2 separate regions of the Homo sapiens genome follow, and region 1 is linked to region 2. Evidence: fine-mapped expression QTL. A gene starts in region 2. The other region holds a variant in brackets. All regions are shown on one strand. Distances are from middle to middle. Region 1 has its middle 38 kb from the start of MRPS23. Region 2 holds the start of MRPS23 (mitochondrial ribosomal protein S23).

Region 1 (15,722 bases), 36 kb after region 2:
ACATGAATGGACGTGACCATTGAAGTGTGGTATAGGCTGCATTCTTTTTCTTTTGGGTAATTTCCTTTAATCCCAGTGAGAGGGAACAGGTTGGAAACAACCAACCTGAAGACCAGTCAAAGGCTCAACTGTTGATTGGCAGATCACTGTGTAACTGTTTGGGTCCCTTGAGTCAGGGGACTGAGTCAGTATCATTTGTGTTTCCCAGTATCTCAGCCTGAGATTGGGAGATGTCTGAGGTTGGGCTCCCTGGAAACAGACTCTGAGATAGAGAGCTGCACGCAGAACATTAATTAGGAGTGTTCTTGGGAGATGTACTTGTAAGGGGGCAAGGGAGGCAGGACGGGGCAGAGGGAGTAGCTGCCCCACAATGTGCTGGCCATGGAGACCTCAGTTAATTCTACAGGGAACTCTGGAGCTGGGATGGCCCTCCAGAGCTGTCCTACTGTGAGAGAGCTGGGCCTTTGCATCCCCCATCAGCCAGTCATTGACTAAGGCTCTCCCCCAGGAGGGGATGTGCCTTGGGTCATGCATTTCCCAATGAGGGATGAACCTCTGAGCCATTAGCAGCCCCTATTCTCAGTAGCTAGGGGATGGGTGTGTGGGCCCTGAAAAGGGATCTGGGTGGGCAGTGTCTGTGACAGATGACCCTTCAAGTGGCTCAGAGTCACTTGTTTCTTGTAGTAAGTTTGCCCCATCTCTGATGGCTTATTTATGATTGTAGTGAGTTTTGCTTCCTGGGGAAACTGACAAGAGAAGGGTTAATGGGACAGACACAGACTCTGATGCTGCATTTGATCTCAAGGTTCTACCTGGTACTCCTTATGCCCCTTCTCCACCACCTGTACCAGAGTCTTCCTGCCCTTGGCTGGCATCTCTGCTGGTCTAAGAGACTTGTTGGGTGGGATGACCTGGACCCTCATTCCTGAGGGTTCTGACCACATGGATACCATGCTCTTTTCAAGACCTGGTTGTTGTACTTGCCCATTATCATTAAAATGGGTATGGAACACCAAGAAATGCCCCAGTGGATTATCCAAATGCCAAACGTATTCCTCCCTGCCTCCACCGACTGGCAGCAGCCCCAGCTCACACTGCCACACTGAGCTGACCCTTCTATGAACTGAACTTGGCCTTTTGCTTCTGCTGTCAGCTGGCCGTAAGGAAGCCCTCATGCAGCTATAGGTGATTGCTGAGGGCCAGGGCCCAGGGAAATATTGACACATGACATGGGAGCCTGGGCTACCTGCCCATGCAGCTTCCGGGTGCCGATCCTAAATGTACCGCTTCCATCGAACGACTGATTGCTACTGGGCTTGCCTGCCCTCGTGACTCTGTGGATCTGACAGATCCAGTTCATGATGGGGAGCTACAGTTGTCTGGTTACTTGGTGTCACTTGGTCAGAAGCCTCATCTCTACCAGGATCCAGTAGCATTCTGGGAGCTACTTTTCTTTTTCTTTTTCTTTTCTTTCTTTCTTTTTTTTTTTTTTGAGATGGAGCCTTACTCTGTTGCCCAGGCTTGAGTGCAGTGGTGAGATCTCACTGCAAGCTCTGCCTCCTGGGCTTAGACCATCCTCCTGCCTCAGCCTCCCAAGTAGCTGGGATTACAGGCACCCGCCACCATGCCCAGCTAATTTTTGTATTTTTAGTACAGACGGGGTTTCACCATGTTGGCCAGGCTGGTCTTGAACTCCTGACCTCAGGTGATCCGCTCGCCTTGGCCTCCCAAAGTGCTGAGATTACAGGCTTGAGCCACCGCGCCTGGCCTGGGAGCTACTTTTCAATGGGTGTGTAGCTTTTCTTGCAGATGGCATGCCCTGCTTCAGAACTCTAGGAATCTATAATATTATTTCCTATTGGTGTTCACCAGAAACTCCATGTGGTGTTTCTTCCTCCACAAAAAACACAGAGCCTTTAGGACCACAGAGCCTGCCGAGTCACACAGCGCGGGAGGCAGGGCTTTCTGACCACAGCCTGAACCTGCTGCAGAGCCCTTTCCTGCTCTGGGTCCCATTCAAAGCTGGCAGCTTTCTTTGTTACCTGCAGGGTTAGAGTACTGTTCCACAGTGTGGACTGTGGCACCTCCAGAACCGATGAAACCCACCAAGCATCATAGTTCTTAATTCATTGTGGGAGCTGAGGCTCTGGAGCTCTGGATGAGGGGATGGCTCTTTTAGAGTTCTTCTAAAGTGATATAAAAAAAAAAAAAAGTAGGTGTTTTCATCCCTGCCTCAGCCAGTCCTTGATCATAGACGTCCCCCCTGGAAGGGGTATAATATTGGGCAGGGAAGTTCCTTGTGGCCAGAGTAATTCTCAATGAGGGTTGTAGCTGTGAGCTTAGTCCCCAGAGCTGGAACAGGTGAAGAGGGGATCTGGGGAGGGGACCACAGCATTTGTGACACACAACCCAACTCCAGGGCTAGGACTAGGGTGAGGCAAGTGAGACACCTAGGAACAAGTGTAGCGAGTCCCTCACACTTGGGTCATGTGAGTGCAGATTCAGCTCTTGCCTCACCCTAGTCCTGGGCCTGTCAAACACCCATGGGACCCTAATAGCAGGAAATGGTAGGAAGTTCAGTTTGGCTAGGAGAAACTTCATATCTCCATGAAGACAGTCTCTTTCTGGAACTGGTAGAATGATTTGTTGGACAGCATTGTCCTAGACTATTTCCTTTCCACTTCTCTGCAGGGGACCGGGAAGGTGGACACTAGAGAAAGGTGTCACCTGTCACTACTGCCAAAAAATTCAAAATACCTTTCCTATCCCATCAGTTATTCTATGACTTTATTTGTCTGAGCCCCATGGTCATCTTTGTGTTGTGGAATGAAGTCAAAGGAGGGAGTTTAAGCTAGAAGATTTTGAAATTTCCTTCTGTTATTATGGCATCGAAGATATTGTCTAATCCTGATCCTACTGGCCAGCTTCCATGGGTAGAACCAGCCTGGAAGCATCAGGTCTCACCGGTATGAGGGGGTGGATTACACAATGGTCAAAAGAGAGAAGACCAGCCATGCCATTCTGGGAGAGAAGGAGATGATTCGAAGGCTAGAGAAACATAACTCATAGGCAAGTAGGAATTAGAGTTAGAGCTTGTCTGAATGTTTGTGTCTCACCAAAATTTATATGTTGAAACCTAACCCGTGAGGTGATGGTATTAAGAGGTAGAGCCTTTGGGAAGTGATTAGGTTATGAGGGCAGCATGAATGGGGTTAGTCCCTTACAAAAGAGGTGGAGTGGCTGGTTGAGGTGGCTCATGTCTGTCATCCCAGCACTTTGGAAGGCTGAGGTGGGTGATCAGGAGTTCGAGACCAGTCTGGCCAACAAGGTGAAACCCTGTCTCTACTAAAAAATACAAAAATTAGCCTGGCATGGTGGTGGGCACCTGTAATCCCAGCTACTTGGGAGGCTGAGGCAGGAGAATCACTTGAACCTGAGAGGCAGAGGTTGCAGTGAGCTGAGATCATGCCATTGCCCTCCAGCCTGGGTGACAAGAGCGAAACTCCATCTCAAAAATAAAAATAAAAATAAAAATAAAAGAGGTGAAGCCTGTTTCCCCCTTCTGCTGTGTAAGGATGTAGCAAGAGGTGCCATTTATGAAGAATAGGCCCCCACCAGGCACTGCATCTGCTGGTGCCTTGATTGTGAACTTCCCAGACTCCAGCACGGTGAGCAATAAATTTCTGTTGTTTACAAATTACTCAGTATAAGGTATTTTGCTGTAGCAGCCCAAATGTGCAAAGACAGAACCCAATGGGAAGAGAGAACAGGAGTTGAATACAGAGCAGGCTGAGTGAAGTAAGACATGAGTGTGGGGCTGGATCATTCCTAGACTGAACCTGAGCACACTGAATTCTGGTCATGGCATCCAGGGTATGTGTGGGCATCCATGGATAGTTTTGTCTTTCAGAAACTTGGACCACCTTTCCCAACTTAATATATACAACTAAAACATTTCTAATCAGATCTCATTGCAGTTTTTATTTTTAACTTAGCAACTTGATAATAAAGTTTAACTGGAAGGATAAAATTAGCCAAAATAAAAATTTGAAATATAAGCATATAATATTATGTATATAATACTAGCTATCAAATGTATTATAAAGCAACAACCATGAAAACAGCATGGTACATGTATAGGAATAGGCAATTAGACCAGGGGAATATGTACAACAGGGAGTCTAGAAAAAAATCTGTGTATATATGATAATTAAATATATGACAAAAATAGCATTTCACATCAGTGAGAAAAGGATGGTTTATTACATAAACAGGGAAAGGTTGTGAATTTCAGAGAAAATTCAAATTTGGTTCCTGTGCCCGTTTTCTGGTTCCATACCTGAAATAAATCCGAAATGGATTAAAGGCTTAAAAATAAAAATTAAAACAATAAAAGTGCTAGAAAAAAAATAGGTCCTTTTTGAGCATGACACAAAAACCAGAAGACAGCAGGAAAAGAACAACAGTCCTAACTACATAAACAAACAAGCAACAATAACAACTTCTATATGGTGAAAAATGTCACAAACAAAAGTTAAAGAATGGAAGAAAATATTTTAAACATACGTAACTGATAAAAGTATAACATCCATAATATACAAAAATGTCCTACAGATCAGTAAGAAAAAGAAATACCATAGATAAATGAACACAGGTGACATCTGGGCAAGTCACAAAGAAGAAACACATATGGCATAGAAAGCATGAAATGATACTCTAAATTAGCAACAAAATACAAAACAACACAACTAAAACCAAGAGGAGATGTAGTTTCCCTATCAAAATTAGCCAAAATTAAACAGATTGCTAGTACTCAGTGTTTTGGAAGGATACAGATAAAAAGGCATCCATAGCTGACAAAACTAAGACTTGCCATAACATTTTTGATGAAGAGCCTGGCAGTTGCAGTCAAATTTAAAATACATTTTCCCATTGAGCCAGAAATTATGCTTTTAGGAATGTGTCATACGGAAACCTTCTTCAAGAGAGAAGAGATGTATGCCTAAGTGTGTTTACTTAGCATTCTTTGGTATAGAAAAACACTGCAAATAGTCCTTCAGGGTAACAGAGGTTGGTTAAGTTGTAGAAAATCCATACAATGGAAAACTATGAGAAAGAATAGCTGTGCAGACATGGAGCTATGTCCACAACAAGCTGTTAGTTTTTTTAAAGAGTAAACTGATGAATGGCACATAAGGCAAAATTCTATTTTTTAAAAGAAAAAAAGGTAAAACAGTAGTTAAAAATGTAAGCTATGATTGTAGTTTTTGTTTGTTTGTGTGTTTGTTTGTTGAGACAGAGTCTCTCTCTGTCAGCTAGGCTGGAATTCAGTGATGTAGTCAGGGCTCACTGCAGCTCTGAACTCCTGGGCTCAAGCAATCCTCCTACCTCAGCCTCCTCAGTAGCTGGGACTACAGGTGCTCACCACCATGCCGGGCTAACTTAATTTTTTTTTCTCTTGTAGAGACGGGGATCTTACTATGTTGACCAAGTCAGTTTAGAATTCCTGACCTCAAGGCAGGATCCTCCTGCCTTGACCTCCCAGTGTTGGGATTATAGGCATGAGCCACTATACCTGGTGTACTGTATATTTTTTTTTTTTGAGAGAGGGTCTCATTTTGTCACCCAGGCTGAAATGCAGTGGTGAGATCCCGGCTCACTGCAGCTTCCACTTCCCAGGTTCAAGCAATTCTCCTGCCTCTGCCACCCCAGTAGCTGGGACTACAGGCATGAGCCAACACACCTGGCTAATTTTTGTATTTTTTGTAGAGGCGGGGTTTTGCCATGTGGCTCAGGCTGGTCTTGAACTCCTGACCTCAAGCGATCTGCCCGCCTCAGCCTCCTAAAGTGCAAGGATTATAGACATGAGCCACCACCCGTAGAATTTTTAAAACACATTAAAAGTAAAGAGTATAGTGTAATGAAACTCCACATCTCATCACCTGGTTGCAAAAAATATATATATATACATATATATATATGTATATATATATTTTTGAAATGAAGCCTCACTCTGTCGCCCAGGCTGGAGTGCAGTGGTGCGATCTTGGCTCACTGCAACCTCCGCCTCCCAGGTTCAAGCAATTCTCCTGCCTCAGCCTCCCGAGTAGCTGGTATTACAGGCGTGTACCACCACGCTCAGCTAATTTTTTTTTTTTTTTTTTTTTTTAGTAGAGACGGGGTTTCACCATGTTGGCCAGGCTGGTCTTGAACTGCTGACCTCAAATGATCCACTCCCCCCGACCTCCCAAAGTGCAGGGATTACAGGCGTGAGCCA[G/C]TGCGCCCGGCTGGTTGCAACAATTTTAAGCTCTTGGCTATTCTTTTTCCATCCCATTCATTGTCTCCTTCACCCATGGATTAATGTGAAGCAAATCCCATATACCCTATCATTGTACCCATAAATAACCTTGGAGCCATTTTCACATTTAAAGGATGGCTCAGGCAGAGAAGAAAGGCTCGGAGGATATACACCGAGTTGATGTCAGTGATCATCACTGGGGAGTAGGATTGAGGAGCATGAGTTTTTATTTTAAACACTTTAGATTACTAAATATATAATTTATTTTTGCATTACTTTGTTTTTTAAAAAATTGAGATTTGTAAGCAAGAAAGTGAGAGGCTGGGTGAGGTGACTCACGCCTGCAATCTCAGCAATTTGGGGGGCCAAGGCAGGTGCATTGTTTGAGCCCAGGAATTCGAGACCAGCCTGAGCAACATGGTGAAACCCTGTCTTTACAAAAAAATACAAAAGTTAGCCAGGTCTGGTGGTGCGCGTCCATAGTCCCAGCTACTTGGGAGCCTGAGGTGGGAGGATCACTGGAGCTCAGGAATTCGAGGCTGCAGTGAGCTATGACTGCACCACTGCACTCCAGCCCGGGCAACAGAGCGAGACTCTGTCAAAAAAAAAAAAAAAAGAAAGAAAAAAAGAAAAAAAAAAGAGAGAGAGACCTCACCAACTATCCTTTTTGTCTATATAGAAACCCCTTTTAAACTCTAAAAACAGCAAACAGAATTATTCTTACTTGATTTTTTCAAAAGCCACCTCAAATCTTTTATGGAATGGTTTGGGAATTCATCAACAAATATATTAAAACTTGAATACACAATCAATACCTAGAATATCACGTTTAGGTCAAGTTTTTGACAGTCGAGTTGCAGCTTTTATATGTGCGTGTCCTGTATGTATATTATAATATAGGGAAGTGCTTACACATCAATCTGTACATGTATGACTGTTTTATAGAATTAGCTCAGTAGCTCACCTGCAAAGTTTCCAGAGGAAGAATTTGATTGGCCCACCTTGGGTCAGCTATTCACTTCTGGCCCAATCAGCTGTCACCAGGGGCAGGGGAAGGCAGGGCATCTGCAGACTGAGTGGACTTCTCACTTCTACTACTTGCTGTACATGCCTAGCACCAAGTCGCCCCTAAGCTCCTCTTTAACATCACCTGTGAGTCTGGGCTCCTTGTTCAAGGACATGCCCCACACATTCAGCGTGGAGGCCTGGAGTTGTTCACAGCACGGGCCCTGTCACTGCAGACCATGGGCGAGGGCCTCCTCCTTTGCCTCCATTTCCCTGCTCTGCTCCTCCTTTGCCTCCATTTCCCAGACCAGCAAGCACTATTTTCACGACAGGGCTCCTCAGCCCTTCCCCTTGACCTTGGAGTTCAGCCCCCCGGGTGTTTCCTTACAGGCATCGCCTTCCTGCTCAGGCCCATCTCCCCTCACCACAGGCCTCTCCACAAACCCACTCGGATATGAGCTAATGCCATTATCTTCCTGAAATTAAAATCAAGCCTCAACCTATAAAGTTTCACAGAGAGGGAATTGGGGTTGTATATTCCTGCGTTGAGCGGTATTCTATTTCAGTCATAGCATTTAATTATGATCGGTATGTTAGTGCCCATCGGAGCATAACAAATTGTCATTATGTTATTCTGCTGAGTCTAATTTAATTGGCAAGTTGTCACAAAAGCAATTATCCATCATTTATTTTGTTGCCATAACCACATCTCGAAGAGCACCTGCTGTCTGCGAGGAGAAATGCGCCACAGTCTCTCAGCCCTGGATCCAGGCCACTTATCTGACAGAAAGACATTGCTTCCCCCTTCTGATTTAAAAATATGTTCCTCATTTCCTGCTGCGGTCTCATGAATCCTCCTGGGGGAGCCTCAAAGTGCCAAAGGAAATTCATAGTCTGGGAAGTTGCCCGAGAGGTCTGCCCCGCCCTGTCAGGGGTGGGTGGGAGGCAGCGGGAGGACGCAGACCCCCGTGGAGGGCCCGGGACCCGACTGGGTCAGGCTTCGCTCCGTCAGCTGTTTCAGCGCCACCTCAGTGATGGATTTATAAATATTTGTTGCTCTTTTCTCCCCGGACAAGCCGCGTGCTCGCTCCCTGGGAGGCAGGATTGTTTGGCCACTTCACAGAGAGAGAACCCGAGGCCCAGGGAACCGAAGGCCCCCGGTCACGAGGAAAGTCTGGAGAGCGGCCAGGACCCCAGTGAAGACCTCCGGAGTCCAAAGGCTTTTTCCACTCTTTGGATCAAACATGTGCAGGCAAAACCTAGTTACTTTAGGCCTGCCAGAGTCCCAGACTGTGCCTCTGGGTGCAGGGGGGGACTGTCGTCCTAGGGCTAGATCTGATTGGCCCCATTTCACATGGAAGCATCAGGCTGAGAGCTCATGATAGCGTCTGGGACAGCGACTGCCCAATCTCCCTGGAGTCTCTGAGCCTAAATCTCTGGGAGGCCCTTTTATCCTGCTCCTACTCGGGTGCCTCTCCGTGCCTGGACTGTATCCCCCACACCCACAGGCAAGCCAAGGCAAGCAACATTGTCATACGATTTTTTTCTTCCCTGAAGCAAGGAAGATAGTCAGTCCTAAGGGACGATGAAGCCTCCAGGTCTGTCTCTGTCCTGGGGGCTGGAAGTGGGTGAAAAAATTATTGATGTTCTTGCTTCCATGATGGTCTTTTTAGCATAGTCACCAAAGAACTCGTTAAAAACACAAACAAAATAACAAACAAAAACACCACCAACAAAACAAACCAAAAACCTACCACTGTATTGCAAAGGGGATAAAGGAACCAGACTTTTAAATAAACCAGCTTTTTCTTTTGGGTCAGTCAGGTACAATTTCCAGGCTTTCTATTTGAGGGCAGTGGAAGATGACCAGCTCCCTGAACAGGCAGATCATCTCTTGCAACTCCAACAAACAAACAAACAAACAAACAAAACCCTCTCATTGCAATTGCTGATAAAATAAACTAGGGATGTTCAGACTCCTCCCTCCTGGACCAGCATTATCCCTAAAGAATGTTCCTTGTGGCTACAGAGAAATCACTTTTTCTACCACAACGCAGTGTTTAGGATCTCTGCTTACTGTGGAGGGCCCCACTTGAGCCTGAAGTTATGCAGTCGATATTGGAGCAGGAAAAAGTTGAATGTGCAAGGAGGGGACTGTGCATGTGTCCCCTGCCGGGCCCAGTTGTGGCAGAGGGTGGTGCTCTCCCACGTTGTGAGTGAGTGTGTAGATTAGTGCAAACTCTGTGGAAAGTAAGCTGGCTAAATGAGTGAAGAGCCACACAAAATGTGCGTCATTTTTGACTCATTAATTTCATTTAGGATAAACAAATTTCATCAAAAACAGAGGAAAGATGCTTGCTCTAGTTTTATTTATTTATTTATTTTTGAAATGGTGTCTCACTGTGTTGCCCAGGCTGGAGTGCAGTGGCGTGATCTCAGCTCACTGCAACCTCCACCTCCCAAGGTTCAAGTGATTCTCCTGCCTCAGACTCCTGAGTAACTGGGATTACAGGCGCCCACCACTGTGCCTGGCTAATTTTTTTGTACTGTTAGTAGAGACGGGGTTTCCCCATGTTGGCCAGGCTGGTCTCAAACTCCCGACCTCAAGAGATCCACCGCTTCAGCCTCCCAAAGTGCTGGGATTACAGGTGTGAGTCACTGCACCTGGCTGGCTATAGTGTTATTTATAATAGCGAAATCAAAGTCTGTGCTAAAGAGCAAACTGACTTGAAGCACACGGCTACAAGCAATGGGTATATGGATGGAGTTCGGTTTTTGTTTTCTGGGAGAGATGTTGAAACAAGAGGAATTCTTTTTTTAAAAAATAATTTCCACTTTTGTTTTATATTAAGGAGATACAGGTGCAGGTTTGTTACCTGGGCATATTGTGTGATGTGGAGATTTGGGTATGATTGATTCCTGTCACTCAGGTAGTGGGCATTGAACGCAAGAGTTAGTTTTTCAACCCTTGCCTGCCTCCCTCTCTCCCCACTCTAGTATAGTCCCGTGTCTATTGTTATCATCTTTATGTCCGTGAATACCCAAGGGTTAGCTCCCACTTATAAGTGAGGACACATGGTATTTGGTTTTCTGTTCCTGCGTTAATTGGTTTAGGCTAATGGCCTCCAGCTGCATCCATGTTGTTGCAAAGAGCATGATTTCATTCCCTTTTAGTGATTCATAGTATTTCTTGGTGTATGTGTACACCATTTTCTTTGTCCAACCCACCATCGATGGACACCTAGGTTGATTCCATGTCTTTGCTACTGTAAATAATACTGTGATGAAAATAATTTATTTTTGAGGCACGGTCTCTTCCCTCTGTCACTCAGGCTGAAATGCAGTGGCATGATCATGGCTCACTGCAGCCCTCAACCTCCTGGGCTCAAGAAATCCTCCTGCCTCAGCCTCTCATGTAGCTGGGACCACAGGCATGCACCACGATGTCTGACTAAATTTTTTTTATTTTTAATAGAGATAAAGTCTTGCTATGTTGCCCAAGCTGGTCTTGTTACTCCTGGGCTCAAGCAATCCTCCTGCCTCAGCCTCCCAAAGTACTGGGATTACAGGCATAAGCCACCGCGCCTGACCGAAAGGAATTCTTTATGTAATTTCATTAAGTAATCATTTCTGAACACTTCAATTTACTGGAGCCAAGTTATGCATGTATGTAAATACAGATGAGACGTATGCACATATAGGTCCCTCCTATATTAGTTTCCCATTGCTGTTGTAACAAATTACCTTCCATTTAGTGCTTTAAACCAGTGGTCCCCAACCTTTGTGCCACCAGGGACTGGTTTTGTGGAAGATAGTTTTTCCATGGATGGGGATGGGGTGGGGGGAGATGGTTTGTGGATGAAACTGTTCCACCTCAGATCATCAAGCATTAGATTCTCACAAAGCGTGTGCAACCTAAATCCGTCGTATGCGCAGTTCACAATAGAGTTCACTCTCCTATGAGAATCTAATGCCACCGCTGATCTGACAGGAGGCAGAGCTTGGGCAGTAATGCTTGCTCGCCTGCCACTCACCTCTTGCTATGTGGCCCGGTTCCTAACAGGCCACTGACTGGTACCGGTCCACTGCCTGGGGGTCGGGGCCTCCCTACCTTAAACAATACTAATTGTCTTATGGTTTTCTGGGTTGGAAGTCCGAAATGGGTCTCCTGGGCTAAAATCAAGATGTTGGCAAGGACATGTTCCTTTCTGGAGGCTCTGGGGAGAGCCTATCTCCTTGCCTTTTCCAGCCTCTAGAGCCCCCCACATTCCTTGACTTCTTGCCTCCTTCATCCATTCTCTTTTTTATGTTTTTGAGACGGAGTTTCACTGTGTTGCCCAGGCTGGAGTGCAGTGGTGCAATCTCGGCTCACTGCAACCCCCACCTCCCAGGTTCAAGCAATTCTCCTGCCTCAGCCTCCTATGTAGCTGGGTTTGCAGGCATGTGCCACCACACCTAGCTAAGTTTTGTATTTTTAGTAGAGATGGAGTTTCACCGCGTTGCCCAGGTTTGTCTCCAACTCCTGATCTCAGGTGATCTGCCTGCCTTGGCCTCCCAAAGTGCTGGGATTACAGGTGTGAGCCACCACGCCCAGCCTTCCTCCATTCTCAAAGCCAGCAACATTGAGCCAAATCCTTCCCACTGTGTCACCCTGACCTTCTGTAGTCACATTTCCCTCTGACTCTCTGCTTCTGTTCCACTTTGAAGGATCCATGTGATTACATTGGGCTCACGCCAATAATCCAGATCATCTCCCTGTTTTAAAGTCAGTTGGTTAGTGACCTTAAGTCCAGCTGCTAGCTTAATTCCTTTTTGCCATGTAACAAAACGTATTGACAGGTTCCAGGGATTAAGCTGTGGACATCTTTGTGCGTGGGGGTGGGTAAGGGGAGAGGGGCATTATTCTGCCAATTACACTCCAGACTGACCAGAAGCCCACAGTTGAGTGGGAGAAACACATGAACACATCTTCAGCATACGTGGCAGAGTGCCATAATCAGCTCTTGGAATCTGGGAGGCAATATGCATATTTATCCATAATTCAGAAATTCCTTGCCGGGAGGCTAGATGCTGTCCAACTCAGTTTTCCTCCTCTTCCCAGCACAAACTCTCTGCTCTGGTCACTTCAGTCCCTCCACTGTTTCTAGTACTTAAATATTATAGAATATTATGGAGGTATTGAAGAATCCTGGCTACGGGGGAGGCTGACACAGGAGGATCACTTTGAGCCCAGGAGTTTGAGATTCCAGCGAACCATGATTGTGCCATTGCACTCCAGCCTGGGTGATGGAGCAAGACCCTGTCTTTAAAAATAACACCCATACTTTTGCCCATTGCCCTCTTACCAGCTGCCCTCACTTCCTCTTACCCTCTGTCCAAATCCCACCCACCCTTAAGTCCCACATCCAGACTTCGCCCACAACCAAGACCCAAATCAAGTCCCACATTCTCCCTGATTCTTTCCTGTGCCCCCCGCACATGCAGCCCAGGCCTTCTGGAACACGTGCATTCTCAATGACATAATAGTCTACTTAAATGTAATTGCTTTCACAGGCTGTTGTTTCAATGTTAGTGCGTTCTTATGTCTCAGCTAGTTTTTGATCTCTCTGAGATCAGGGGTCATGTGCTATAATCCATCTGTCACCTCCACAGCACCTGGCACAGTGCTGCTGAAGAACAATTTGCTAAATTTGTTCAAATCCTTTTTTGAATACTCTCAGAGGGGCTAGATCCTGAGGGTGGAACTGTGCTTCAGGGAGTGTCCTGCTCTAAAGGAGCACTCAGTCTGAAAGGGAGACTGACAAGAAACTGATGGGTCAGGGGGTGATGTGACGAGTGCTAGAATAGAATTATGCACAGAGGGGTCTCCAGGTCAGCTTGTGGGTGGATCAGAGAAGGCTTTTCAGAGGCAGTGATGTTTGAGCTGGGTTTTGAAGGATGAGTAGGAGTGAGCTGGCTAAAGGGATATGGGAGAAGGGTTCTATTCCCATAAGAGGAGGACCATTTAAAGCAGAACAAAGAGTATTATAGATGCCAAATGCTGTCCAACTTGGTTTTCCCAGCCTCCTAGAGCAAACTCTTCTCTTATGACTTCAGCCTCCTCTCTGTTCTATGGTCATGGTCTGCCTCTTCCCAGTCCCATATCTTTGACGGTTAAGTTAGAAAAAATGGTGAAAGTTGACATTCACGAGTGAAGCTGAGAAGGAAGGGACAAAAATCATCAAGTCACTCTGAGTCAAAAGACTAATGATAATACACACAACAGACAAGAAACAACATTCCTAATATGTAACCTGATAAGAAAAAAAGACAAAGCTTTTAAAAAATGGACAGAGCACATGAACAAACTTTTTTTTTTTTGAGATGGAGTCTTGCTCTGTCACCTAGGCTGGAGTGCAATAGCGCAATCTCGGCTCACTGCAACCTCCGCCTCCCAGATTCAAGCAATTCTTGTGCCTCAGCCCCCCGAGTAGCTGGGATTACAGGCATGTGCCACCACACCCTGCTAATTTTTGTATTTTTAGTAGAGATGGGGTTTCACCATGTTGCCCAGGCTGGTCTTGAACTCCTGACCTCAGGTGATCCACCTGCCTTGGCCCCACAAAGTGCTGGGATTACAGGTGTGAGCCACTGTGCCCAGCCTATGAACAAACATTTTACAGATGAGAGAATACAAATAGCTGATAAGTACATGAAAAGACACTCAACTGTATTTGTAGTCAGGGAACTGCAAGATAAAACAACAATTAATACCATTTTCAGTCATCAGATTGGCAAAAATTAAAGATTGATAACATCCAATGTTGTCAACGGTGTGAGTAAACAGGGACTCTCATACATTGTTAATGGATATATGAATTGCTAAACCCTTTTAAGAAAGCAATCTCAAAGTGAGTATTAGAATTAAAAATGAACACATCCTAGCTGTTGGCATACATCTGTAGTTCTAGCTACTTGGGAGGCTGAAGTTGGAGGAGTGCTTCAGGCCAGGAGTTTGAGACCAGACTGGACAACATAGAGAGACCTCATCTCTCCAAAAAAAAAAAAAAAAAAATTAAATTAGTCAGGCTTGGTGATGTGTGCCTATAGATCTAGTTACTTGGGAGGTTGGGGTGGGAGGATCACTTGAATCCAGGAGTTTATGGTTACAGTGAGCTCTGATCATGCCACTGCACTCCAGCCTGGGCAATGGAGTGAGACTCCCCTTATCTAAAAAAAAAAAAAAAATCCTTTGACACAGCAATCCCAATATGAGAATGTATTTTAAGGAGATATATACATATAATATTTATTGCAAGGTTGTTTCTAGTAGCAAAAGCTGGATAGAATCTGAATTTCCATTAATAGGGGAATGTTAGGTAAATTATAGTACTTAAATATTATAGAATATTATAGAAATATTAAAGAGTGCATTAAACCCATACATGTTGACCTGGAGGAATCCCCATGGTACCATGATATAATGTTAAGCAGCAAAAGCAAAAAGCAATCAGCAAGGACAGTGTCATAGTGTGTGAGGGGGGAGGGAGAGATATATGGGGAATGGTTGTATACTATTAAATGATCTCAGAGAAAGATACAGAAGGCTGCATACTCTAGGATGTTAACAGTCATTACCTGAAGTGACAGCAGTGGGAGCTAAGGAAGGGAAGACTTTAACTTTAGAAGTCTGCATTGGGCCAGGTGCAGTAGCTCAGTACTTTGGGAAGGTAAGGCAGAAGGAGTTTGAACCCAGGAGTTCAAGGTTACAGTGAGCCATGATTGCACCACTGCACTCCAGCCTGGGTGACAGCATGAGACCCTATTGCTAAAAAATTAATTTGTAATGACAAATATTGGCCAGGTGCAGTGGCTCACGACTGTAATCCCAGCATTTTGGGAGGCCGAGGTGGGCAGATCATGAGGTCAGGAGTTCGAGATCAGCCTGGCCAACATGGTGAAACCCCATCTCTACTAAAAATACAAAAATTAGCCGGGCGCGGTGGCTCACGCCTGTAATCCCAGCGCTCTGGGAGGCCGAGGCAGGCAGATCACGAGGTCAGGAGATCGAAACCATCCTGGCTAACATGGTGAAACCCCGTCTCTACTAAAAATATATAAAAAAACTAGCGGGGCATTGTGGCGGGCACCTGTAGTCCCAGCTACTCGGGAGGCTGAGGTAGGAGAATGGCGTGAACCTGGGAGGCAGAGCTTGCAGTGAGCCGAGATCGTGCCACTGCACTCCAGCCTGGGAGACAGAGAGAGACTCCGTCCCCCGCCCCCCCAAAAAAATTAGCTGGGCGTGGTGGTGGGCACTGGTAATCTCAGCTACTTGGGAGACTGAGGCAGGAGAATCATTTGAACCCGGGAGAGGGAGGTTGCAGTGAGCTGAGATGGCGCCATTGCACTCCAGCCTGGGTGACAGGGTGAGACTCTGCCT
Region 2 (15,722 bases):
CTAACTTGGCTTTATTTATCCATGCTGTTCACTGGAAAACTCTGAGAGCTGTGGGCCAAGCACCAGGCCGGGTGTGGGGAGGCAGAGCTAAAAGTCCTAGTTCCTGCCCTCAAAAAGGCCCCTGTAGCCAGACTCAGACAGGTAAACAGAGTTACAACACAGACATAGCCCTGAAAGAGATAAGCATAGGAAGGGAGGGAGCAGGTCTGGGCACTCACCCGATCTTACCGAGTGTGTGCTGGGGGCTGAAAAGCTTTTCCACCTGAACTGATTCTTGACAGTTCCTTGAAGCCTAGGAAGGGGGTCTGAAGGGGAGCTCTCAGGAGAGGGGCACAAGCCCAACAGCCGGAAGGAAAGAGAAGGTACTCTGACTCCCCCCCCCCTTTTTTTTTTTTTTTGAGATGGAGTCTTGCTCTGTCGCCCCAACTGGAATGCAGTGGCACGATCTCAGTTCACTGCAACCTCCGCCTCCTGGGTTCAAGCAATTCTCTTGGCTCAGCCTTCCAAGTAGCGAGTAGCTAGGATTGTAGGTGCCAACCACCATGCCTGGCTAATTTTTAAATTTGTAGTAGAGACGGGGTTTCATCACGTTGGCCAGGCTGGTCTCGAACTCCTGACCTCAAGTGATCCACCCACCCCGGCCTTCCAAAGTGCTGGGATTACAGGCGTGAGCAGCTGTGCCTGGCTGCCTCCTCCTTTAATAGCCCTCCCTGCCCTTCATCCTCCTGGTCCTCAGACTCAGGAAGCCTACAATTCTTTTTTTTTTAACGGATCCTGATATAATCCTCTCTCTCTTTTTTTAGAGAAAAGGGCTCACTTTGTCACACAGGTTGGGGTGCAGTGGCACGATCATAGTTCACTGCAGCTGCGAACTCCTGGGCGCAAGCAATCTTCTTGTCTCAGCCTCATGAGTAGCTAGCACTACCAGCTTGTGCCACTGCACTGGCTAACTTTTTTCTTTCTCTTCTTTTCTTCTTCTTTTTTTTTTTTTTTTTTTTTTTTTTTTTGTAGAGACAAGGTCTCGCTATGTTGGCCAGGCTAGTCTCAAACTCCTGGCCTCAAGTCATCCTCCCGCCTTGGCCTCCCAAAGTGCTGGGATTACAGACATGATCCTCCACAGCTGGCCTGACATAATTCTTAAACTGTGTATTGAATATACTGTATTGCTTTCCTCCCTTTAAAGCTAATTGCTCCCTGATTTTAGCTGTCATAGGTGAGTAGCAGCATTCATGATTTCATCAGTGTGCTGGGAGTTTCACTTACCAAAGCTGTTCCACTACTGGGGATGATGCTCTTCCTCATTTTGTCTGACAAATTCCCACACAATATTTATTTATTTATTTTTGAGACGGAGTCTTGCTCTGTTACTCAGGGTGGAGTGCAGTGGTGCAATCTCAGCTCACTGCAACCTCCGCTTCCTGGGTTCAAGTGATTCTCCTGCCTCAGCCTCCCAAGTAGCTGGGATTACAGGTGTGTGCCATGACACCCGCCTAATTTTTTTTATTTTTTATTTTTTATTTTATTTTTAGTAGAGACGAGGTTTCGCCATGTTGGCCAGGCTGGTCTCGAACTCCTGACCTCAAGTGGTCCACCCGCCTTGGCCTCCCAAAGTGTTGGGATTACAGGCATGAGCCATCACGCCTGACCTCCACGCACTATTTAAATACGGGCATTGTCACAAAGATGTGGGCAGAGTGATGGGAAGCCACAAGGGATGGCCTAGACCCCGTGGCTAATAACAGAGGGGTACAGCTTGCCAACTACGTCTAGGCTTGAAGGAGCAGGAGAGGGACGGTGGCTGGAACCTGGTGAGAGAGCTGTGATTTTATGTTCTAGAACTTTATGTTCCAGGAGGGAGCCCGCTGGCAGTACCAACTGGAATCCAGCCAGAAGCAGAGGGCAAGGAGCTGGTGGATGCAGGCCACAGAAGCCAGCCTCCCGAGGCACAGAACAGGGCGAAGGACGGCAGAGAGTGGGTGTGGAACTGCTTGGGCAAATGGGAACTATTCAGCACTTACTGATCTATGTTAGGGGCTGAGCTGTGTCTCCCCAAAAATCATATGTTGAGGTCCTAACTCCAGTACCTCAGAATGTGACTATAATAGGAGGTAGTCTTTAAAGAGGTAATTAAGTTAAAATGAAGTCAGTAGGGTGGGCCCTAATCCAATAAGACTGGTGTCCTCATAAGAAGAGATTAGGACAAAACCTTCCCACACAGAGGAAAGACCATGTGAAGACGTGGGAGAAGAAAGCTGTCTCCAAGGCAAGGAGAAACTAGCCAAGTGCAGAATAAACTAAACTTGCAGACACCTTGATCTTGGACTTCTGGCCTCCAGAATAGGGAGAAAATAAATCTGTGTTTAAGCCACCCACTTTGTGTGCAAGTGGTGTTAGGGCAGGCCTAGCAAACTTCATACAATCAACAAGCTATTCAGCACATAACTTAATATTTATGTATTTACCTCTCTGTCTTCCCTACTGGACCGTTGGATTCTCTAAGACTCAGAATAGTCAGGTAGGTGTTTATATGCTTCTGGAACGAACGGATCATCTAACAAGAAAGTAAAACAGTAAGGCAATCTATGAAATATTATCAAAATGCTGCAGTCCAGGTGGCAATGGGTGGATGACACAGCACAACAGCAATCGTGTTGCTGTTACAGCCATCAGGCTTGTTGCTGCTCACAGGCACTCACTATGTCCCAGGTGCCGTGATTAGTGCTTTACATGAATGATCTCTTTTACTTTTGCAACAAGCCACGAAGATAGTTGACACTGCCATCCAGATTATTATTATTATTATTATTATTATTATTATTATTATTTGAGACAGGGTCTTGGCTCTGTTGACCAGGCTGGAGTGCAGTGGTGTGATCATGGCTCACTGCAGCCTTGAACTCCTGGGCTCAGGCCATCCTCCCACCTCAGTCCCCTGAGTAGCTGGGATTACAGGCATGCACCACCACACCTGGCTAATTTTGCCCAGGCTGGTTTTGATCTCCTGGCTTAAGCAATCCTCCCACACTGGCCTCCCAAAATGTTGGGATTACAAGCATGAGCCACTGAGCCCAGCTCCACATTTTAACAGTTGGAGAAACAGAGGCTCGAAAAGTTACATAACTTGCTCAGAGTGAAGCAATTAGTGGGCACGTCTACAATGAGACAGTGGGATTAATATGAGGCCGAGTGGTGTTGTAGGAACATGGCCTTTGGGAGTTTACAAGCACCACTTCCTTATCTGTAAGATTAGCAGGACATTACCTATGTCAGCAGGTGGTTGAACAACTGAATGAGACACTTGAGGTTCCTTGGTACCTCCCGCGGCACAGTGGTGCGTGGTGTAAGTGCCCCAGGCCCTCACAGCCTTGGGCGGCTGTGGTCCCCACTCAAGAAGACAGCCTCAAATGTCCATTCTGCCTGCCCCCTGCTGCCCGACAGCTTGCTCCTGTATTATGAATGAATGTTTCTTGGGTGTGTACTTCTTGTGTAGCCTCAGAAGGCTGTTATCCCCAAAGTACCCCCAAGTCTGCCCACCAATATTCTGCTCTCAGTCACAGAAGCAGGCTGGAAAGGGAAACTTCAAAGGCTTGGAAGAGGAAGGGACCACCCCAAGATTAGCGAGAACATTTCTGCCTTGCAGTTCTTCCCCTATTGAGGGTTTGCGTCTTTGGTTCCCCTCCTTGATCTTGGAATAAACCCTTTAACTCTTTAGCTGCAGTGACTGCACTAACCTACAGTAGCAGTTCCTGGTGGGAGAAGAGAAGTGTGCCTGTAATCTGGGCTGGCAGATAGTGCTTGCTGGCTGGGACAGAATTAGAAAGTTGTTATGAGGCCTGGGAAGACTATATTTAGCTGGGAGCATGTTTACTCTCCCCAGAGCAAGGTCTTTTAGACCTCCTGAGGGCTGGGATACTAGAGCCTTTACACCTGGCCTGGGGCCAGAGCTGTGCTCTCTCTTCTCTGTTCCAGAGGGTCTGGAGGCAGCAGTGAAATCCACCTCAGGTTAGCCCTGGGCCTCAAATCACTGGATCCCTGGCGTGCGTGTGTGTGTGTGTGTGTGTGTGTGTGTGTGTGTGTGTTGTGGGGGGGGCGGGTGGGGAGCGGCGTTCTGCTGGACTCTTGAGCCTACCAGCCTCGAGCTTTAGGCATAGCTTAGGCGGCATTGTGAGGCACTGGAAAGGGCCCTGGCTGCCCCACCCCCCCAAGGCTGGCTCTATCAGTTGCTTATCAGACAAGTTATGTAACTTCCTGAGGCCTTGCTTTCTCATCTATAATGAGGATGTTAATAGCTACCTTATGGGAAGGTATGTGGATTCAGTAAGATAACACACACAAGCAGTAACTACTCATCAAACAGTCCCGTCCTCCCCTTCACCAGCCTCAGAGTGGGAGGACTCTAGGATGACTTGACTAGGCTCCCAGGAGACATTGTGTGTGATTCAAAACATTCATTGGATTAAAAGTTCAAATATGAATACAATCTCTTTACAAGTCAAACTCTGAAGCATGTGTAAAGGAAGAAAAAATTCTCCCTTGCCTGCCTGCAGTTTCACTCCGAGATATCCAATGTTCACAGCCTTGGGTGTCCTTCTGCAGAATTTCTATCCTCAAACACAAACATATATAGAGGTGTTTCTTTTTCCTTTTTTTTTTCTAACACGTTGAGATTCCACTAAACATGTTTCTTTGCAACTTCGTTTTTCATTTAAACATAAGTCATGTACCTTAACCTTGGTAAATACATGTGGATCTAGCTCATTCATTTTAATAGCTGCATAGGGTTCCAAAGAAAGTATGAACAATAATTTTCCAGCTATTTCTCATCTGATGGATTTTTTTTCCCACTACAAACAATGCTGCAACGATGATCCTTGCACAAACATCCTCATGAATTGATGCTTTAATTTCTAAGGGGTTCTTTCCCCGAAATATGATTACTGGGTCAAAGGGTATGCTACACACAGTTTATATTTTTTTACAGTTTAACACTGAGAGATGACTTTCTCCAGATTTTTTCGTTTCCCTCTCGGCGTCTGTTTGTTCCGGACACTTTCACTTTTCGAGTTCCAAGGAGGAGGTAGCCCGCGACACCGGCCGCGGGAAACACGAGTTGCAGCCAGCATCCTAGTTAGCGTGGATGCAGGTGGCACTCCGGGGACGAGGGGCTTAGTGGGGAGCACTACACAGCCAGAGGCGGAGGCCCGAGATCTAGCACGACGCTGGGCAAGTGACGGCCCCTCCCCGGCCTTGGTTTTCTTCTGCGTAGTCTGTGACTCTAAACAACATTAGGCTCAGCCTGGGCCTAGAGCTGGTGACCTCAAATCTCGGCCTTTGTTGGCTCCCCTAGGACTGTAGGCTGCGCTTCACCCCTGCTCTGCCCCACTACTTCTCCTCCGCGCGGCCCCACCTTTTCAGAGGAGTTGGCTCAACAAGGCGAGAGAGAGTAAAGCAACCATCATGATGAATCCCTCCCACAGCTCGGTCATTTATTACTTCTGTCCGGCTTTGGCTCGCTCCTGCCCTTTTGGCTCGGCTATCGAGTGCTCCTGCCTGAACCTGGCAAGTAACCTCGGAGCGCGCCCGTTCGGCCTATCACTTGCTTCTGCCTGCGCCGCTCTCCCGCAGGGGCTGCGGTGAAAGCCCAGCGATCCTTGGCTCGGCCAGCAACTTATGCGCCCTTTACCTGGAGCAGCCGCTTCCGGTTCCGGTAGCAGCTAGTCACGCTCGGTACCAGGCGCAGATCATGGCAGGCAGCCGGCTGGAAACCGTAGGGAGCATCTTCTCTCGGTGTGTGCTCCCAGCCGTGGTGGGCTGAGGGTGCCTCCCCCAGGCTGGGGTTCTCAGCCGGTCACGCTCTTCCTTGGAGCGGACCTGAGCAGGGCGAGGCGTATTGCAGGGTGCGGGGGCTGAGCTGGGTGAGGCCCTCTCATGTTTTCTCCTGGCTCCGAATAGTTGTGCCTGAGGATGCCTCTCCTTGAATTTATGTGTCATGTTAAAGATTATTGCAGCTGCCTCTCCCCGAGTGGAGGTCTCTAGGAAGAGGAAGGGAGGAAGAGCCTGATGGGCCTTCCTTATCAGGTCATGCAAGACCGCTCTTTGCATTTTTCCGTGACCGAACGTGGGTGGGACGCACAAAAGAAGATAGAGGGATTTAACTCTCCTGAGCGTTGTTAAGTTTGGTTTGGGATGTGGACAGATCTTCTCTGTAGGTGGGGAGCAGTCCTTCCCCGTTCTGTGTTGCAGACCGCATAATACCTTTAATGTCCCAAACTGTGCTAGACTGATTCAGGGGCTTTGGCAGGCTACTGCAAGTGACCCAGTTTCGTTCTGTTCCCTCCCTAAGGACTCGGGACCTGGTTCGGGCCGGGGTGCTGAAGGAGAAGCCCCTGTGGTTTGACGTATATGACGCCTTTCCCCCGCTGAGGGAGCCCGTCTTCCAAAGGCCTCGAGTGCGATATGGCAAAGCCAAAGCTCCCATCCAAGACATCTGGTACCACGAGGATCGGATTAGAGCGTGAGTGCTCAGCCCTGTAGTGGACAGGAGGCAACAGAACTTCAGAAGGGAAGGTTTCGGTAGCAGTCTGGGAATTCAAACATGAAATTGAGTCAGGGGTTTGCCCTGTGGAGAAGGCTTATCTAGCCAAATTAGGGAGGCAGCACCCCTTCCTCATAGTGAAACTGAAGTTCTGAAAAGTGGAATCTGGAGCCCAGCAACCGAAAGATCATTGCAATTATAGCCGCATGTTTCTGGGCATCTGCTTTGGGCCAGGCACTGTACTAAGCTCTTTGCAAGCATTATCTCATTCTCTAAAGGCCTTACTCTAACTTGTAAGGAAGGCATTCTTGTTTCCATTTTATTCAAGGAGACTGCGAAGCTCAAGGAAATTAGCTAACTTCTTGTAATTACTAAATATATAGGAGGGTGGCAGATCTGGGAATCACATCTCTGACTCCAAGCTTATGGTGATCATTATGCCGGCCTTCTCCACGAGTGGAGATAGGAGGAACGTGGTCTGTGGATCTAGTAGTCCGGCTCTTTGAAGCCACTCAGATGAAAGGATGCTTGAAAGTCTAAGAGAGGCCGGGTGCGGTGGCTCACGCCTGTAATCCCAACACTTTGGGAGGCCAAGGCGGGCGGATCACCTGAAGTCAGGAGTTCGAGACCAGTCAGACCAACATGGTGAAACCCCGTCTCTACTAAAAATACAAAAATTAGCCGGGCATGGTGGTGGGTGCTTGTAGTCCCAGCTACTCGGAAGGCTGAGACAGGAGAATTGCTTGAACCTGGGAGGTGGAGGTTGCAGTGAGCCGAGATCCCACCACTGCACTCCAGCCTGGGCGACAGAGAGAGACAATCACTAGGAATTTGAAGGAAAATCATGTGTTCTTTATTTTTTTTTAGCATCCCTTTTCTCTTTTTTTTTCTTTTTCTTAAGCTCAGTGGCAAGAATACTTCCTCTTTTATTATAAAAGCAACACATGCTACTTGTAGAAAATTTAGATACACAAAGAAAGCATAAAAAGAAATCACAGGCTGGATGTGGTGGCTTGTGCCTGTAATCCTAGTGCTTTGGGAGGCATAAGGGAGGATAGCTTGTGCCCAGGAGTTTGAGACCACCCTGGGCAACATAGCAGGACTTGTCTCTACCAAAAAAAAAGTAGTTGTCTTAGTTTACACTCTGATTAGCAGTTTCTGAGAGTTCTTACTTTATCCTTGTCAGTATTGATAATGATTATTTAAGAATTTTTTTTTTCTGGGCCAGGCACGGTGGCCCACGCCTGTAATCCTGGCACTTTGGGAGGCTGAGGTGGGCAGATTGCCTGAGCTCAGGAGTTCGAGACCACCTTGGGCAATATGGTGAAACCCTGTCTTGACTAAAATACCAAAAATTAGCCGGGCTTGGTGGTGGGCACCTGTAGTCCCAGCTACTTTGGATGCTGAGGTGGGAGAATCGCTTGAAACTAGAAGGTGGAGGTTGCAGTGAGCTGAGAGTGCACCACTGCACTCCAGCCTGGGCAACAGAGGGAGACCCTGTCTCCAAAAAAAAAAAAAGTTTTGTTTTTTTCTGATCTAAGTATTTTTTTTTTTTTCGAGATGGAGTCTCACTCTGTCTCCCAGGCTGGAGTGCAGTGGCGCAATCTCGGCTCACTGCAAACTCTGCCTTCCGGGTTCATGCCATTCTCCTGCCTCAGCCTCCTGAGTAGCTGGGACTACAGGCGCCCACCACCACAGCTGGCTAATTTTTTGTATTTTTAGTAGAGACAGGGTTTCACCGTGTTAGCCAGGATGGTCTCAATCTCCTGACCTCGTGATCCGCCTGCCTCGGCCTCCCAAAGTGCTGGGATTACAGGCGTGAGCCACCGCGCCCGGCCTCTTTATTCTCTTTTTTTCCAAAACTTAAATAGTCACAGAAAATGTGCTCCTAATGGTTGCCTAGGAACATTCTTTTTTTTTTTTTTTGAGATGGAGTCTCGCTCTGCCACCCAGGCTGGAGTGCAGTGGTGTAATTTCAGCCCCATGCAACCTCCACCTCCCGGGTTCAAGCTGTTCTCCTGCCTCAGCCTCTTGAGTAGCTGGGATTACAGGCTCACGCCACCATGCCTGGCTAATTTGTATTTTTAGTAGAGATGGGGTTTCACCATGTTGGTCAGGCTGGTCTCAAACTCCTGACCTCGTGATCCGCCCGCCTTGCCTCCCAAAGTGTTGGGATTACAGGTGTGAGCCACCGTGCCCGGCCTCCTAGCAACATTCTTAAAAATATCTTTAAAGTTCTCTATTTTTTCTTTTTTTTATTTTTTATTTTTAATTTATTTTTATTATTTTTTATTTTTTATAGTATTTATTGATCATTCTTGGGTGTTTCTCGGAGAGGGGGATTTGGCAGGGTCATAGGACAATAGTGGAGGGAAGGTCAGCAGATAAACATGTGAACAAGGGTGTCTGGTTTTCCTAGGCAGAGGTCCCTGCGTTCTTCCGCAGTGTTTGTGTTCCTGGGTACTTGAGATTAGGGAGTGGTGATGACTCTTAACGAGCATGCTGCCTTCAAGCATCTGTTTAACAAAGCACATCTTGCACCGCCCTTAATCCATTTAACCCTGAGTGGACACAGCACATGTTTCAGAGAGCAGGGGGTTGGGGGTAAGGTTATAGATTAACAGCATCCCAAGGCAGAAGAATTTTTCTTAGTACAGAACAAAATGGAGTCTCCCATGTCTACCTCTTTCCACACAGACACAGTAACAATCTGATCTCTCTTTCTTTTCCCCACATTTCCCCCTTTTCTATTCGACAAAACCCCCATCGTCATCATGGCCCGTTCTCAATGAGCTGTTGGGTACTCCTCCCAGATGGGGTGGCGGCCGGGCAGAGGGGCTCCTCACTTCCCAGACGGGGCGGCCGGGCAGAGGTGCCCCCCACCTCCCGGACGGGGCAGTGGCCGGGCGGGGGTGCCCCCCACCTCCCTCCCGGACGGGGCGGCTGGTCGGGCGGTGGCTACCCCCCACCTCCCTCCCGGACGGGGCGGCTGGCCAGGCGGGGGCTGCCCCCCACCTCCCTCCCGGACGGGGCGGCTGGCGGAGCAGGGACTGCCCCCTACCTCCCTCCCAGACGGGGCGGCTGGCTGGGTGGGGGCTGCCCCCCACCTTATTTTTTTCATACAAAAAAAAAAAACAAAGATGTCACACTTCTTTGGGACTACTTTTCTGTTTTCATGTTTCCCCTTTTGTGTGCCCTGAATTTTGTTCATACTGCCCCTGTTGTGGCCTTAGCCTGTCTTTAATAGCTCTACATTCCAAATGCCCTGTCTTTATTCAATAACAAACATTCATTAAGCACTGTCATGGGCCAGGCATTGTCAAATTCATTCTTGTAACTTCAGTGCCTAGCCCATTGTGTGGCATATAAGTTGCTTATTAATCGTCTCTTGAATGAAGAAGCTAATGGATTAATGGACAGATGAACTATGAGGCTGGTAGAGAGAAACGAAAGAAAATTCCTTGGAGAGGAATGGTGGAGGGCCAGGACTGGGACTGTTTGGAGAATGGCCATCAGAATTTTATTAGTTTTCTGAAACAATTTCAGGAACAGTGGGCTAGAAACCACTTCTATGGCCACATTTAGCATCCCTATACATTTATGTAAGATCTAAGTAAGTGGTAAATCTCTCACTGGGAGTTTACTGACAAAGCCCCTCCCCTTGAATACTGATGTTAATTAGCTTTTAGTACCTTGAATTTGTCTAGTTCCTTTTTCTCTTAAATATTTATACCAATGAGTGTGCCTAATTGACTTTGATACACATCCCTTATTCTTACTGTTGTTTCAGGATGCTAGAAAATGGAATTTATAAGGTCATTATGTTCCGAATTGGGGCCCAGGCTTTCACCCCGGGACCCCCAACACCAACACTCATTTAAAGTAGCAGAACAAGTATGTTCTTGTTCTACTTGGATATTTTCGGCATACAACATGAGATCTTTGAGGAGATTAAATGCTTTTTCAGCACCTTTCTTCTCAGACCCATTGCATGCACTTTGTGGTTCATTGATACATTAAAATCATTTGTGCTTTGCTCTCACATGTAATCCTGGCACTTCAGGAGGCCGAGGCGGGTGGATCACTTGAGGTCAGGAGTTCGAAACCAGCCTGGGCAACATGGTGAAACCCCACCTCTGCTAAAAATGCAAAAATCAGCTGGGCGTGGTGGCATGCACCTGTAGTCCCAGCTAGTCTGGAGGCTGAGGTGGGAGGATCGCTTTAACCCAGGAGGCAGAGGTTGCAGTGAGCTGAGATTGCACCATTTCACTCCAGCCTGGGTGACAGAGTGAGACTCCGACTCAAAAATAAATAAATAAATAAAAAATTTAAAAAATCATTTGTGCTTCTGCTGTAGATTTGGACTGGATGATAAATGATTGGAGAATGTGGAATAGTTTACTTGTCCCTCTTGTTAAATATTACTTTTTTTTTTTTTTTTTTGAGATGGAGTCTTGCTCTCTCTCTCTCTCCCAGGCTGGAGTGCAGTGGTTCAATCTCAGCTCACTGCAGCCTCCACCTCCCGGGTTCAAGCATTTCTCCTTCTCAGCCTCCCGAGTAGCTGGGATTACAGGCATGTGTCACCACGGCGGGCTAATTTTTTTTTTTTTTTTTGTATTTTCAGGAAGACAGGGTTTCACCATGTTGGCCAGGCTGGTCTTGAACTTCTGACCTCCAGTGATTCACCTACCTTGGCCTCCCAAAGTGCTGGGATTACAGGCATGAGCCACCATGCCCAGCCTGTTAAATATTATTTCTTTAAATTCTTTTTTTATTTTTTAATTTTTTACTATTGTCAGAATATATAAAAATTATTTCTATTAACACCAAAATATTATCTTGTATTTATATAATTTATTGAACCTTTATCTTTGTGGCCCTCTTTTTTTTTGGTGGTTTTGATATTTAAAAAAGCTTATAGAGTGGTTGTGCATGCCTGTAGTTCCAGCTACTTGGGAGGCTGAGGAAGGAGGACCATTGGAGTCTAGGAGTTCAAGGTTGTAGTACACTATGATTGTATCTGTGAATAGCCACTGCACTCACAACAGCCTGGCAACATGGCAAGACCCCATCTCTTAAAAAAAAAAAAAAGAAAAAGGAACTTACAACAAAATAAATAAAACAAACAAAAAAGATGTATTAAAATCTAAGTGTAAAAAGTGAGATCATAACAGTACTGGAAGAAAACATGGGAGAATTAAAAAAATAATCTGAGTGATAAAGGTCTTTTTAAGCATGATATAAAACTCAGAAGCCATAAAAAGAAAATATTAAAATTTTCTGTATAAAAAAGTACTGTAAGCAAAATCAAAAGACAGCCAACAAACTGGGAAAGATCTTTGCAATGTTATGACAAAGGACTAATTTTCTATGTATATGGCTACAAAGTTTGCTTAGAAATCATTAAGAAAGAGACCACTGTGTAACGAATTACCATAGACCAGGTGGCTTATAAACAAATGAAATTTCTTTCTCATAGTTCTGGAGGCTAGGAAGTCTGAGATCAGGGTGCCAGCAGGGTCAGGTTCTGGGGAGGACTGTCTTCCTGATTCCTCACATTGAGGGGAGCAGAGAGTGGTAGCAAGCTCTCTTCTATCTCTTATAGGGGCACTAATCCCATCATGAGGGCTGATTACCATGACCTGATTACCTCCCAAAGCCTCCATCTCTAAATACCATCACAATGGGGATTAGGATTTCAACATAGTAATTTTGGTGGGACACGTTTAGTCCATAGCAACCACCAAATAGAAAAGCGGACAAAGAACTTGGACAGTTCACAGAAAAGGAAATTCAGTTTGCTTTTAAACTTGAAAAGATGTCCAGTCTCTTTAAAAAGAAAAGCAAATTAAAACTATAAAGAGTTCTGGTTTCTTACCTATTAGGTTGGCTAAGATCAAAAAGTTGGAGAACATGTGTGTGTGTGTTTGTGTATTTTTTTTTTTTTTTTGAGGCAGGATCTAACCCAGACTGGGATGCAGTGGTGCCTATCATGGCTTACTGCAGCCTTGACCTCCTGGACTCAAGTGATCCTCCCACCTCAGCCTCCTGAGTAGCTGGGACTACAGGTGTATGCCACCATTCCTGGCTAATTTTTAATTTTTTTTGTAGAGATGGTGTCCCACTATATTGCCCAGGCTGGTCTTGAACTCCTGGCCTCAAGTGATCCTCCTGCCTTGGCCTTCCAAAGTGCTGGGATTACAGGCATCAGCCAGCACGCCTGGTCTAAATATATATATATATTTTTGCTGGGATTACAGGTGTGAGCCACTGCACCTGCCTCGTGTGTGTGTGTGTGTGTGTGTGTGTGTGTGTGTGTGTGTGTGTATATATATATATTTTTTTTTTTTTTTTAGAGACAGGGTCTCAGGTCTCACCATGTTGCCCAAGCTGGTGGTGAGCTCCTGGCCTCAAAAGATCCTCATGCCTCAGCTTCCCAAGCAGGTGGGATTATATGCGTGAGCCTCTATGCTCAGCTGGAGAATGTCATTTGGTCAGGGTGTGGGGAGATAGGTGCTCGTATATTACCTATGTGAATGTAAATTGGTACAGCCACTTTGGAAAGCATTTTGGCAATTTGGAAGGCTTAATTACAAATGCACATACCTTGATCCAGTAGTACCACATTTGTGAATTTATGCCACAGACTTATTTACGTAGTGCACTAAAATTATAAATAGAGATAATGATTGCAGCATGGTTTAGAGTAGTAAAGGACTGGAAACAATCTCCATGGCACTGATAAGGCAAGATGTAGGGAGGAGAAATGGGGAGTGACTGCTCAGATACAGTGCCTCCTTTTGGGGGTGATGAAAATGTTTTGGAACTTGATAGAGGTGCTAGTTGCACAGCTTTGTGAGTTTTCTACATGTCACTTAATTGCACACTGAAAAATGTTAAATGTGGGCTGGGGACAATGGCTCATGCCTGTAAGCCCAGCATTTTTGGAAGCCAAGGTGGGAGGATCTCTTGAGGCTAGCAGTTCAAGACCAGCCTGGGCAACATAGTGAGACTGCATCTCTACAAAAATTTAAAACTTAGCCAGGCATGGTGGTGCTGCGAACCTGTAGTTCCAGCTACTCAGGATGCTGAGGCAAGAGGATTGCTTGAGCCCAGGAGTTTGAGGCTGCAGTGAGCTATGATCACAGCACTGCTACCTGCGTTGGTGACACAGTGAGACCCTGTCTCTTTGGAAAAAAAAAAAGTTAATTTTATGATGTGTGACTTTTACCTCAGTTTTTATTATTTATTTTTATTTTGTTATTATTTTTTGAGACGGAGTCTCATTCTGTTGCCCAGGTTGGAGTGCAATGGTGCGCTCTCCACTTACTGCAACCTCTGCCTCCTGGGTTCAAGTGATTCTCCCACCTAACCCTCCCAAGTAGCTGTGACTACAGGCATATGCCACCATGCCTGCTAATTTCTTTGTATTTTTAGTAGAGATGGGGTTTCACCATGCTGAACTCCCAGTTGCAAGTAATCTGCCTGCCTCAGCCTCCCAAAGTGCTGGGATTATAGGCATGAGCCACTGCGCCTAGCCATACCTCAGTTTTTAAAAAGGCAAGATGTAGAGCAAGGTTTACTATTCTTGGGGTTAAAAATGTGGCTGGGGACAGGGAATGATAGTGCATATATGCTAGTATATTAGTGGAATATTTCTGGATGGATATACAAGAAATTTGTTAGTGTTGCTTCCTGGGAAGGGAACTGGGGGGCTGGGGTGCAGAAGTGGGAGGGAGTGTTACTTTTCACTGGCCACCCTTTTGTGCTATTTGATGTATTTACCATGTGCATGTGTGCATTACTTATCTAAAAAAACAAAACTGTTCAGCTTAGGCTATGTGGGTTATACCGTACTTAACTCCTCAGTGCCTAGCACTTATTCTTTATTTCTTTTATTCCATTCTCATCCACAGTCTATAATCGGAGATTTATATTATGTTGTTTGCATTTTCTAGGAAGTTTTATTCAGTGTATGGGTCTGGTCAAAGAGCTTTTGATCTATTCAATCCAAACTTCAAGTCTACCTGTCAACGGTAAGCCATTTTATAAGTCCTAGGCTATTCATATTATTTTTTAAGGATTTTGTTATCCATTTGATATTGTGTAACAGCGTCTTAACAATGCTTACAAACATACCTAAAATGTGACTGCTTGGAATTACAGGTTTGTGGAGAAGTACACTGAGCTACAGAAACTTGGAGAAACAGATGAAGAGAAGTTATTTGTGGAAACAGGGAAGGCTTTATTGGCAGAAGGTGTCATTTTAAGACGAGTAGGCGAAGCAAGGACTGTGAGTATTTCATTGTTAAAATTGTTACTGGGTTTATAGTTGTCCCTCAGTATGCACAGGGGATTGGTGCTAGGGCCCCTGCAGATACCAATATTCACAGATGCTGAAATACCTTTTATAAAGTGCTGTGGTTTTTGCATATAACCTACACATATCCTCCCATATACTTTAATCATCTCTAAATCATTTATAATACATAACACATTGTAAATGCTATGTAAGTAGTTATACTCTATTTTTAAAAATTTATATTTTTTATTTTATTTATTTATTGTTAAAATATTTTTGATCCGTGGTTTGTTGAATCTGCATATGTGGAACCTGTAGATGCAGAGGGTTGACCAGAGTTGCCAATCTGATGGAAGTTAAAGAGAGACTTGGTTTTCTTTCCCTAACCTTGGCTTATGTTCTTAAACTCCAGGTCAAATACTGTTACACTGAATATACTAGAATTTTGTGGTAATGACTGCTACTTGAAACAAGTGAGTCGTCATTAGGGCTTTTGAAATTTGGTTCTATAGACTTTTTTTTTTTTTTTTGAGACGGAGTCTCGCTCTGTCACCCAGGCTGGAGTGCAGTGGCGCAGTCTTGGCTCACTGCAAGCTCTGCCTCCTAGGTTCATGCCATTCTCCTGCCTCAGCCTCCCGAGTAGCTGGGACCACAGGCGCCTGCCACCATGCTCAGCTAATTTTTTGTAGCTTTAGAAGAGACGGGGTTTCACCGTGTTAGCCAGGATGGTCTTGATCTCCTGACCTCGTGATCCGCCCGCCTCAGCCTCCCAAAGTGCTGGGATTACAGGCGTGAGCCACCACGCCCGGCCCTATAGACTTTTTAAAATCATGTTTACTATTTGTTATAGTAGAATTGGATCTAAGATATTAGTGCTAAATTTTT

What was found. PIP is the estimated chance that this variant, and not a neighbour inherited with it, causes the effect.
Region 1: its variant is fine-mapped to the expression of MRPS23 in whole blood (TOPMed, PIP 0.94).

Annotation. Positions count from the first base shown.
Region 1 is chr17:57,803,755-57,819,476 of GRCh38, reverse strand. No RefSeq gene overlaps it. Among named protein-coding and RNA genes, the nearest start is that of MRPS23, 38 kb to the left of the region's middle. RefSeq lists an enhancer at 7,964-8,850. The variant G/C (reference allele first, on the strand shown) is at 6,278.
Region 2 is chr17:57,840,032-57,855,753 of GRCh38, reverse strand. MRPS23 (mitochondrial ribosomal protein S23) reads left to right here and starts at 5,710. Exons shown (of 5, transcript NM_016070.4): 1 at 5,710-5,787; 2 at 6,344-6,514; 3 at 14,494-14,571; 4 at 14,702-14,828. The coding sequence starts at 5,744. RefSeq lists enhancers at 5,215-5,724, 5,400-5,729, 8,915-9,522.